3 linked regions of the Homo sapiens genome follow. The protein of the gene in region 3 interacts with the protein of the main gene of each other region in a pairwise test. Each region holds a gene or a part of one and is shown on either strand. Other genes may lie near its edges.

Region 1 (2,607 bases), on a different chromosome or scaffold from region 3:
AAATTATCTTCAGACACTCTCCATCTTTCTACCCACTCAGAGATCTTTTAGAAGTAGTGAGATTTCAAGATAACTCTGTCTGTGCAATTGTGGTTTGTTCGGCAACATGTAGGCATAAACACTGCTGTCTCTCTACAGTGCCTCTGGCTCTGAGAATCCTCATCTGTGGTAGTCTGGGCTGGTGTGGGAGATGGAGGCAATTGTTCAGCAAGATCCAGATAATTAGGGCCAAGATGTGTCGTGGCTTCTTCCTTCTCCCAATTATACAGACTCTTGCTTTATTGCTCTGGTTTTTTTTTTTTTCTCCCTACGGTGAGTGTAGACTTTTTTTTTTTTTTTTTTTTTTTTTTTTTTTTTTTTTGAGAGAGAGAGAGAAGCAGAAATTCCAGGAGAGAATCAGAAAGGGAGAAAAAGAGAGATGGGGTTTAGGAGAGAGAAAGAGGGAGAAAGAAACAGTGGGCTATTTGGACCACACTAGAAGTCTTTACTGACAAGCCTTTGGATTTGGGTTGGGAAGAGTAGCAAGCTGGATTTCTAGCTGGACAAGGCACTCTTCAGAGCCCAGAGCTTGCCTGTGGGGGGGCGGGTGGTCAAGGGTGGGTGGGCTGTGGGGAGCTGAACAGAGGGGCCCCGAAGCCCAAAAAGAAAGCCATGGCTGAGCATTGAGATGATTTTTATTTACTCCTCAAAGGTGTCTATTAGGTTTCCAGGCATGAAGTCATTCGTGTATGTGATCTGGAGGGAGACTAGGGAAGGGGTGATTGTAAGATTAATAACTAAGCCCCCACTCACTTTAGGCAGTGTACGCACATCTCCAGGTCCAAGCTACCAGATGTTTCTTCATCTCTACATACCATTTCCTTTCCAGATAAGGCAGCAGACAAAGAAAGGGGGCTTCTTTGAGAAGGCAAGACTGGAGTTATTTCCCCAGGAGGCCAAACCAACCTGCAGTTGGTCTGATCCAGGACAAATTGGCTAAATCAATCCTTGGCATCCTATAGAGAAAAATAACCAGTTTAAACCAGTTGTCTACTTTTTAAACTGATTTTTTTTAGGGTTGATTAAATCTCATTGGAAATTTAGAGCTAGAATTTAGGAAACCAAAATTGGATAGGTAATTGTGAGAGTTTAAAGAGAGTAAAGTAAAAAATTAGGGACAATTATCTGGCTAATTCAGAAACAAAAACCCACCTTTACCCTACTGTATTCTTCTCCAGGGAAAAGGAGGTGTTTTAAAGCTGGATTGTATTAGCTGGCCTATTTCCATTTTAAAACTTACTGTATCATTTTAAGAGTCAGAAAGTCTGGCTTTAAAATCTGGTTCTGCCACTTAAGTTATTTTACCCACTCTGAGCCTCAGATTCCTAATCTTGTAAAATGAGTTTAACAAAATAATCCTGAAAAAATGTTCTGAGGATTAAAAACAACAATAACAACAACAAAAGCAACAAACTCATGGTATCACTACATATCCTCTTCATTCTATTCTTGTCAACAAATCGTCAATTTCCCAAATCATGGTTACCTCTGTAAGAGTAAAACAAATTTGAGAACTGAGAGATTTAAAGATAATGGTCGTGTTCAAAAACAAATCCTTTTTAACCTAAAGGATCCATACTGTTTAAATAAAGTTATTTTGTTTTTTAGATTTTTTTAAATCATAGTTTATTCTCACAGAGGCAGAGAAAAATGCCAGGTCCAACAGTTTTCCTGAGAAATTGTCACCAGAAGACAGTCAAATGAGGCCATTGGACCCCGTCTCCCATTTTCTTCCTGAGCATTTTGTTTTCCCCTGTGTCTCACTGTGACCACTACTCTTCCCATTGTGTATAGAGTCCATGAGAGAAAGCAGACCCAATGGGGATGGGTACAGGGAAAGTGTTCTGTGAGGGTGGGATGGGAACAAACATTTCAGAAAGAACTTTGTGTCTTCCCTCTGGGCTGTGTCTATAGTTTCAAAATGTGGTAGGAATGAAGGGGAAACCCCAAATATTCAGCCCTCCTCATTAGCTTTCACCTAAAGTCTAATAATTACATGGAAAAAATTGAGGGCTGAGCTATCCAGATAATCTCCCTAGTTCCCCCACTTCCCCTTGAAAGTGTTGCGTGACCTTTATTGACAGGGATGAGGGTGGAGTAGAAAATGGAGTTAGAAGTGATATATATTGGTTTTAGTTTCTGTGAAATTCTCAGAGCCTAAAGAAACAGAACTGGTAATATTGGTTTGGATGACAGGCATCTAGGGTTTAGGGTTATGGTTGGTGCAAGGGATGTAGACAGTTTCCTTCAGCTGTGAAGGAATGGAGAGGGAAGGCGGTTGGAACAGAATTTGTTCTGTTTTGGTGGGACTGCAGTGTGGACCCCCTACTTCCAGAGACACCTGATTCCCTATATCTCAGGTTCAGGACCCCCCACCTTGGGTGTTAGGTGGTTCATAACATTGGACCCCAATTCCTAGAGTGTGGACCTCCAAGCAGGCTGGCTTCACCTGGACACTTATCTTCTATCTGTGCCTCACATCCCTAACGTAGGGCCAGTGTCCAAAGGCGTGAAGACTCATCTGGTGGTCTGGGCCCACTGAAGCTGACCCCCTGCCTGCCATGCCCT
Region 2 (3,500 bases), on a different chromosome or scaffold from region 3:
TGTCCTTCCACCTCAGCCTCTCAAGTAACTAGAACTACAGGGGTATGCCACCATGCCTGGCTAATTTTTTCATCCTTTATAGAGGTGTGGTCTCCCCCTTGTTGTCCAGGCTGGTCTTGAACTCCTAGCCTCAAGCAGTCCTCCCACCTCAGCCTCCCAAAGTGCTGGATTACAGGCATGAGCCATCATGCCAGCCACCTCTAGTTGTTGTTGTTGTTTTGAGGCAGAATCTCATTCTGTCACTCAGGCTTCGGTGCAGTGGTGCAATCTCGGCTCACTGCAACCTCTGCCACCCAGATTCAAGCAATTCTCCTGCCTCAGCCTCCCAAGTAGCTGGAACTACAGGCGCATGACACCATGCCTGGCTAATTTTTTTGTATTTTTAGTAGAGATGAGGTTTCACCATGTTGCCCAAGCTGGTCTCGAACTCCTGGCCTCAAGAGATCTGCCCACCTGGGCCTCCGAAAGTGTTGGGATTACAGGCTTGAGCCACTGCGCCCTGGCCACCCCTCTTTTTATTATGTGAAATTTCAAACATACAAGTTGAAAGATTAGTACAGTTAACATCTTCCACTTAGGTTCAATAATTGTTAAGATTTTGCTACTTTTGCTTTATGTGTATACGTAATTCTGGATTTTTTTGTTGAACCCTTTGAAAGTAAATTACAGACATCAGGATGCTTTACCCCTAAATTAGGCATCCGTGGAGAATAAGGATATTCTCCTGTACCACTTTAAGACTATTATACCTAAGAAAATAAACACGAATTCTCTGACATTCTAATGGTCCATTTTCAAAAATCCCCAGACTGTGGGACCGTTCAGAATCTATTCATAGTTGAGTTGGTATGCATTCAGTTGTTATGTCTCCTGCTATAGCACAGAAACTGCCCCTACACCCCATACCTTTTTCTTTTTCCTGTAACATTGATTTTTTCACCCTAGCAGGCCGGTTGTTTTGTAGAATGTCCTGATTGTTTCTTTATCTGTCTGTTTTTTTCCTGATGGAGTTATGTAACTCGTCCCTCTTTCCCTTACATTTTTTGTTAAATGGGAATTGTGTCTGAGGCTTGGTTAGATTCAGTTTATACATCTTTAGCAGGAATAATCCTTGGTTGCTGCCATCTAGTTCATATTGGAGTACATCTCCAGGCATGTACGGCCTGGCTTTTCCGATGTGGGAAAGTTTGGTCACTTGGTTAAGGGGATATCTGCCATGTTTGTCCATTGTGAAGGGACATTTAGTTCTCATGGTTAGTAAACAGTCTATGGGGTGATACTTTGGCATATCCTGTTCCCTAATAGCCATTTACTCAGTGGGTTTCACATCTATGAGCTTTGCCTGAACCAGTTATCACATTGGTGTTTGCAAAATGGTGATTTTTCTAATTCTTTTTCTTTTTTCTTTCTCTTTCAAGAGGTATTCCCCCAATGCCCCTTTGAGTTTGAGTGTCACTATAGACCCATACACTATTTACTGACTTGTTACAGTCAGTCAGTCTTCCTGCAGTTCCAACTGGCTAGCCTCTTGTGTCTTCTTCATGTGTTTGTATCATTCTTTGTGTGCTTCCTGCTTTGTGGCACTGCAAGATGTCCTGGGCTGACTTTGAACTTTCCCTTCCGCACCCTAGAATCAGCTGTTTTTCAAGGAAGCTGTGGTATTTAGAGACCAAAACCTGGGTGTTGAGTGTGTATATTGTTCTAGGTTCTTTCAGTGAACAGTGTTAGAGACTTGACTTTTCAAAAAGTTTCTGTTAGTATTTTAAAGATTAATGTTATAGCCATGTTTGGTGGCTCATGCCTGTAATCTTAGTGCTTTGTGTGGCTGAGGCAGGAGGATTGCCTGAGGCCAGGAGTTCGAGATCAGCCTGGGCAATATAGTAAGACCCTGTGTCTAAAAAGATAAAAAACCTAGCCGGGTGCAGTGGCTCACACCTGTAGCCCCAGCAGTTTGGGAGGCTAAGGCGGGTGGACTGCTTCAGCCCAGGCATTTGAGACCAGCCTGGGCAACATGGCAAAACCCTGTCTCTATAAAAAATATAAAAATTAGCCTGGCATGGTGATGTGCACGTGTAGTCCCAGCTATTCAGGAGGCTGAGGTAGGAGGATTGCTTGAGTTGGGAAGGTGGAGGTTGCAGTGAGCTGAGATCATGCCACTGCACTCCAGTCTGGGTGACAGAGCAAGACCCTGTCTCAGAGAAAAAAAAAAAACGAGCCGGGTGTGGTGGCATGCCACTGGACTCCAGCCCGGGCAACAGAACGAGATCCCCACTCTAAACAAAGAAACAAAAACATCACAAATACTTTTTTTTGAGATGGAGTCTCACTCTGTCACCCAGGCTGGAGTACAGTGGCGCCATCTCAGCTCACTGCAACCTCTGCCTCCCAGGTTTAAGTGATCCTCCTGCCTCAGCCTCCTGAGTAGCGGGGACTACAGGTACACACCACCATATCCAGCTGATTTTTGTATTTTTAGTAGGGACGCAGTTTCACCATGTTGGCCAGGCTAGTCTCGAACTCCTGACCTCAGGTGACCTGCTTGCCTTGGCCTCCCAAAGTGCTGGGATTATAGGTGTGAGCCACTGCTCCCAGCCAGACTTTTTAATTAATTAATTTATTATTATTATTATTATTATTATTGAGAAAGAGTTTCACTCTTGTTGCCCAGGCTGGAGTGCAATGGCACAATCTCGGCTCACCGCAACCTCCGCCTCCCGGGTTCAAGCGATTCTCCTGCCTCAGCCTCCTGAGTAGCTGGGATTACAGGCATGTGCCACCACGCCCGACTAATTTTGTATTTTTAGTGGAGACAGGGTTTCTCCATGTTGGTCAGGCTGGTCTCGAACTCCCGACTTGAGGTGATCCGCCCGCCTCGGCCTCCCAGAATGCTGGGATTATAGGTGTTAGCCACTGCACCCAGCCCCAGCCAGACTTTTTTATACTAAAAGTCTTTCCTCTTAATAACATTAAGATGTGGGTTTGTTTGATTTATTTTACAACAGTAATTAAATAGCATCAAAATAACAAAGTCAGTACAACTGCTGACTGTATCTAGTGAATGAAACATAGATTTTATTTGTGTTTCTTGTTCTCTGAGCATATCCCATTGAGATTTTACAGTCAGAATGTTCTTCAAGTTACTTGAATAATTGTTTCATCTGAGTATTCCTGTTACCAATTATGTATACAATCCCCTCCCTCCCTTCCTCCCTCCCTCTCTTCCTCCTTCCCTCCCTCCCTCCCTCCCTCCGTCCCTCTCTCCCTTCCTTCCTTCCTTTTCTTCTCCCTTCTCCCTTTGAGGGTCTAGCTCTGTTTCCCAGGCTGGAGTCCAGTGGCGCAAACACTGCTTACTGCAGCCTAGATCTCCTGGGCTCAAGCAGCCCTCCCACCTCAGCCTCCCAAGTAGCTGGGACTACAGGCACGTGCTACCACACCCGGCTAATTTTTTTACATTTTATTTTAATAGAGACGGGTTTTTCCATGTTGCCCGGGTTCCAGGT
Region 3 (3,386 bases):
GAAACTATCTCTCGGTTCCGGGCATTGGCGGTGGACCCCACGGAGTTTGCCTGCATGAAGGCCTTGGTCCTCTTCAAGCCAGGTAACTGAGTCTCTGCCCAAACCTTGAGTGGGAATTCTGGTGACTTCCATCTGCCTCTCACTCTCCCTCCACTACCCCCATGTGTGCAGATGTGTGTAGGCCTCTATCCTGGGGGGTGGGAGGAGAGTGGTGAGGCTGGACTCCCTTCTCCTTGGGGCCACTCCTGGTTGACTGTGAGGGGACAGGGCAGGCTGGGAGCCCCTGGGAGACCCTGAGCCCCAGCCGGAGCCCCTGGTGGCTCCTCTGGGCCTGGCAGAGCCCACCCCACAGGGCCCCAGGTCCATGTCTGCAGCCAGAACCCTGGGCCACCACTTCATGGCCAGCCTTATAACAGCCGTAAACCTGTGCTAAGCTCACTGGTGCTGCTTCTCCCCAGAGACGCGGGGCCTGAAGGATCCTGAGCACGTAGAGGCCTTGCAGGACCAGTCCCAAGTGATGCTGAGCCAGCACAGCAAGGCCCACCACCCCAGCCAGCCCGTGAGGTGACCTGAGCATGCGCCCACCCACTCATCTGTCCCTGACCTCTAACCTTTCTCTGCCTCTCCCACACTCTCCCAGAGCTCACTGATTAGACAGCACAAGGGTCTCAGTTCAACAGCATACAGCCAACATCTATGGTGTCCCAGGCACAGTGCCAGGCCCCGGGAGTGGGGACCAAGATGTACATAAGACAAAGCTACTGCCTTCTAGAGACAACCGGCAGTGACCTCACTGAAGACAAAAACTGCCCTAGCCAGGTACTGAGGGTTGCATGAATCTGCAGGAGACAGAGATCCCCTTGCATGGGAAACATAAAGCAGAATTGGGAGGGACTTTGTGGAGACAGGGCTGGACTTGAAAGGAAGAAGAAGTCTAAAAGAAAACATCATTTGCAAAGGGAGAGAGGGGCAAGCATGATATGTTGTTAGAACAGGAGCCCACTTTGAAGGTATAACAGGTTCCTGCCAGTGAGAAATGGGGAGAATAAGCCAGAAAAGTACCCTAGGACCAGCCCGTTCAGGACTTTGAATGCCAGCCAAAGGCCACGTCTGACTTGGGAGGCAGAGGGCAGCTACTGCAGGTTTCCGAGCAGAGGGTCATACACAGGGCTGGACCTCACGCAGACTGGCATGGCCATGGGTCCAGAGGATACTACTGGGAAGGGGATGGCAGCTACTGCCACCTTCCAGATGGTTCCATGGAGTTCTGATCTTTGGGCATGGCCAGGGGAAGCAGAAGGGAGACTCTAGGAGTTGAAATGGGTCAGACCCGGTGTTTGGGTGAAGGTAAGGAATGAGGGAAGAGGAGCTCTTTGGGAGAAGACATTGTTAAAAATATAAAAAGGAAAGCCAGGAGGAAAGACGGTTTTGAGGGAAGATGATAAGGTGTTTTGTAGGTGCACTGAGCATCCTGTAGAGATGCCAAGCACATGGATGGCCCTGGCTAGGTTTGGGGGAGAGTTGCTGCAGGCTGAGTGTGGCTGCGCGAGGGTGGGGCAGGAGCCGGTGCTCTGGGACTACGCTGTTTGGCCCAGCACAGGCAGATGTCATGGAGCCTCAGCAAGGTTGGAACATTTGGCCTTCAGGCATCTACTGGCTATTTTAGACCATGTTATCTGCAATCTTTGGGGCTCCCGGCAGTTTCTTTCTGAAGAAGCAAGCTAATATGGGCATCCTTGCATCACCTCTAATCCAAGAAATGATTACAAGGAGAAAAGGTAATTTCCTTTTAAGAAAAGCCACAGTATACAAAGTATATGCCATATAGCACAGGAAGATTTGTGCTGCTTATGAGCATAGGGAGAACGCTGCTACTACTAAGACTTGACTTAGCATCTGAAGAGTGGGATTCAGAGACATTCAGAAACCAGCAGCCTTTCTCTGCCAAGTTTCTGTTGGAACCAACTCCCAGAGATGTCCTGGCATATTGGTTATGCGTCAAATTTCAAAATGCTGATTAAGATTTCCTATGTCCCTTTTATAGCGGTTCATTGCCTACTACAAGGGAATTGAGCATGAAGATAGTGGTTTGGGGTTCTCTAATCCAGCATATTATTTCAGTTTTTAAAAACTGCAACACCCAGGAAGAAACACAATTACCATCGCCCCCTGATATGCACACAGACACCAAAGCGAAGTTCCACGAAGTAATTCCTACCCTTAGCTTTTACAATTTACCTGATGTTTCTCTTTTCTTTTTTTGAAAAGGCTGATTGTGACCCCCTGAATTTAATTTCAGACCCACTAGGTGAGGCAATACCTGCAGTTTGGAAAAAACATTCTTTAACTGACTTTATAGTTATTTCTTCTTCCTCCCACTCTAATTTAGATCAGAAAAACAGAAGCAGGGAAGGCAGATGGGAGGGGTATACGACTTGCTCAGTGCTGCTCACTTGGCACTAGCAAGAGAAAGGAAGGCCTTAGGTTGGCAAAGCAAGTCCAGCAGATCACTGAGTGGTGGGGAAGTCTTCCCCGAAATTCACGGTGAGAGGAGCATGGGACTGCCCAATGTGGAGTAGCCTCCTTGATGCTGGGTGTTGACCCTGGCCATCAGACCTACCCAGGGAAGGTTTAGTTCCCCCATCTGTCTCTTGGGGCTTCACCATCCGTCTTTTGTGTTGCGGACTCCTGTCTTAGCAAATACTTTTTTTTTTTTTTTTTTTTTGAGACGGAGTCTCTCTCTGTCACCCAGGCTGGAGCGCAGTGGCGTGATCTCGGTTCACTGCAAGCTCCACCTCCTGGGTTCACGCCATTCTCCTGCCTCAGCCTCCCGAGTAGCTGGGACTACAGGCGCCCACCACCACGCCCGGCTAATTTTTTGTATTTTTAGTAGAGACGGGGTTTCACCGCATTAGCCAGGATGGTCTCGATCTCCTGACCTCGTGTTCCGCCCGCCTCGGCCTCCCAAAGTGCTGGGATTACAGGCGTGAGCCACCACGCTCAGCCAGCAAATAGTTCTTATTTAAAACAATAAATATTTTTTTCAATGACTATCTCAGTCACCAAAATTATCCTTCAACTTCAGGACATTTTCAGTAATGGCTATCATCATCCTAGGTGGTATACAGACAGGAATTTGTATTCTTACAAACAATTCTTATCTACTAAAAACTAATCATATAATTATAATACTTATATATGAGATTAATAATAATATTTTCATATACAGGTGCTCCTTGACTTATGATGGGGTTACATCTGGATAAACCCATTGTTAAGTTGAAGCTACTGTAAGTTGAAGATGAATTTTCATACATAACCCATCTTAAGTCAAGGAGCATACTGAATGCTTATCACTTTCACACCATGATAAAGTCGAACCATCT

Evidence for each region. Proteins that work in one complex are often made in the same cells at the same time.
Region 1: the proteins of NR2E3 (region 3) and HOXC13 interact in a two-hybrid assay, tested with the Homo sapiens proteins (one large-scale study listed by BioGRID and IntAct).
Region 2: the proteins of NR2E3 (region 3) and DEDD2 interact in a two-hybrid assay, tested with the Homo sapiens proteins (one large-scale study listed by BioGRID and IntAct).

The regions. Positions count from the first base shown.
Region 1 is NC_000012.12:53,941,831-53,944,437, forward strand, and holds part of HOXC13 (homeobox protein Hox-C13), read left to right. Parts: intron 1-2,607. UniProt on the Homo sapiens protein: Transcription factor which plays a role in hair follicle differentiation. Regulates FOXQ1 expression and that of other hair-specific genes.
Region 2 is NC_000019.10:42,211,178-42,214,677, reverse strand, and holds part of DEDD2 (DNA-binding death effector domain-containing protein 2), read left to right. Parts: intron 1-3,500. UniProt on the Homo sapiens protein: May play a critical role in death receptor-induced apoptosis and may target CASP8 and CASP10 to the nucleus. May regulate degradation of intermediate filaments during apoptosis.
Region 3 is NC_000015.10:71,813,554-71,816,939, forward strand, and holds part of NR2E3 (photoreceptor-specific nuclear receptor), read left to right. Parts: coding exon 1-82; intron 83-458; coding exon 459-564; coding exon of another isoform or gene 565-568; exon of another isoform or gene 569-1,376; intron 1,377-3,386. UniProt on the Homo sapiens protein: Orphan nuclear receptor of retinal photoreceptor cells. Transcriptional factor that is an activator of rod development and repressor of cone development.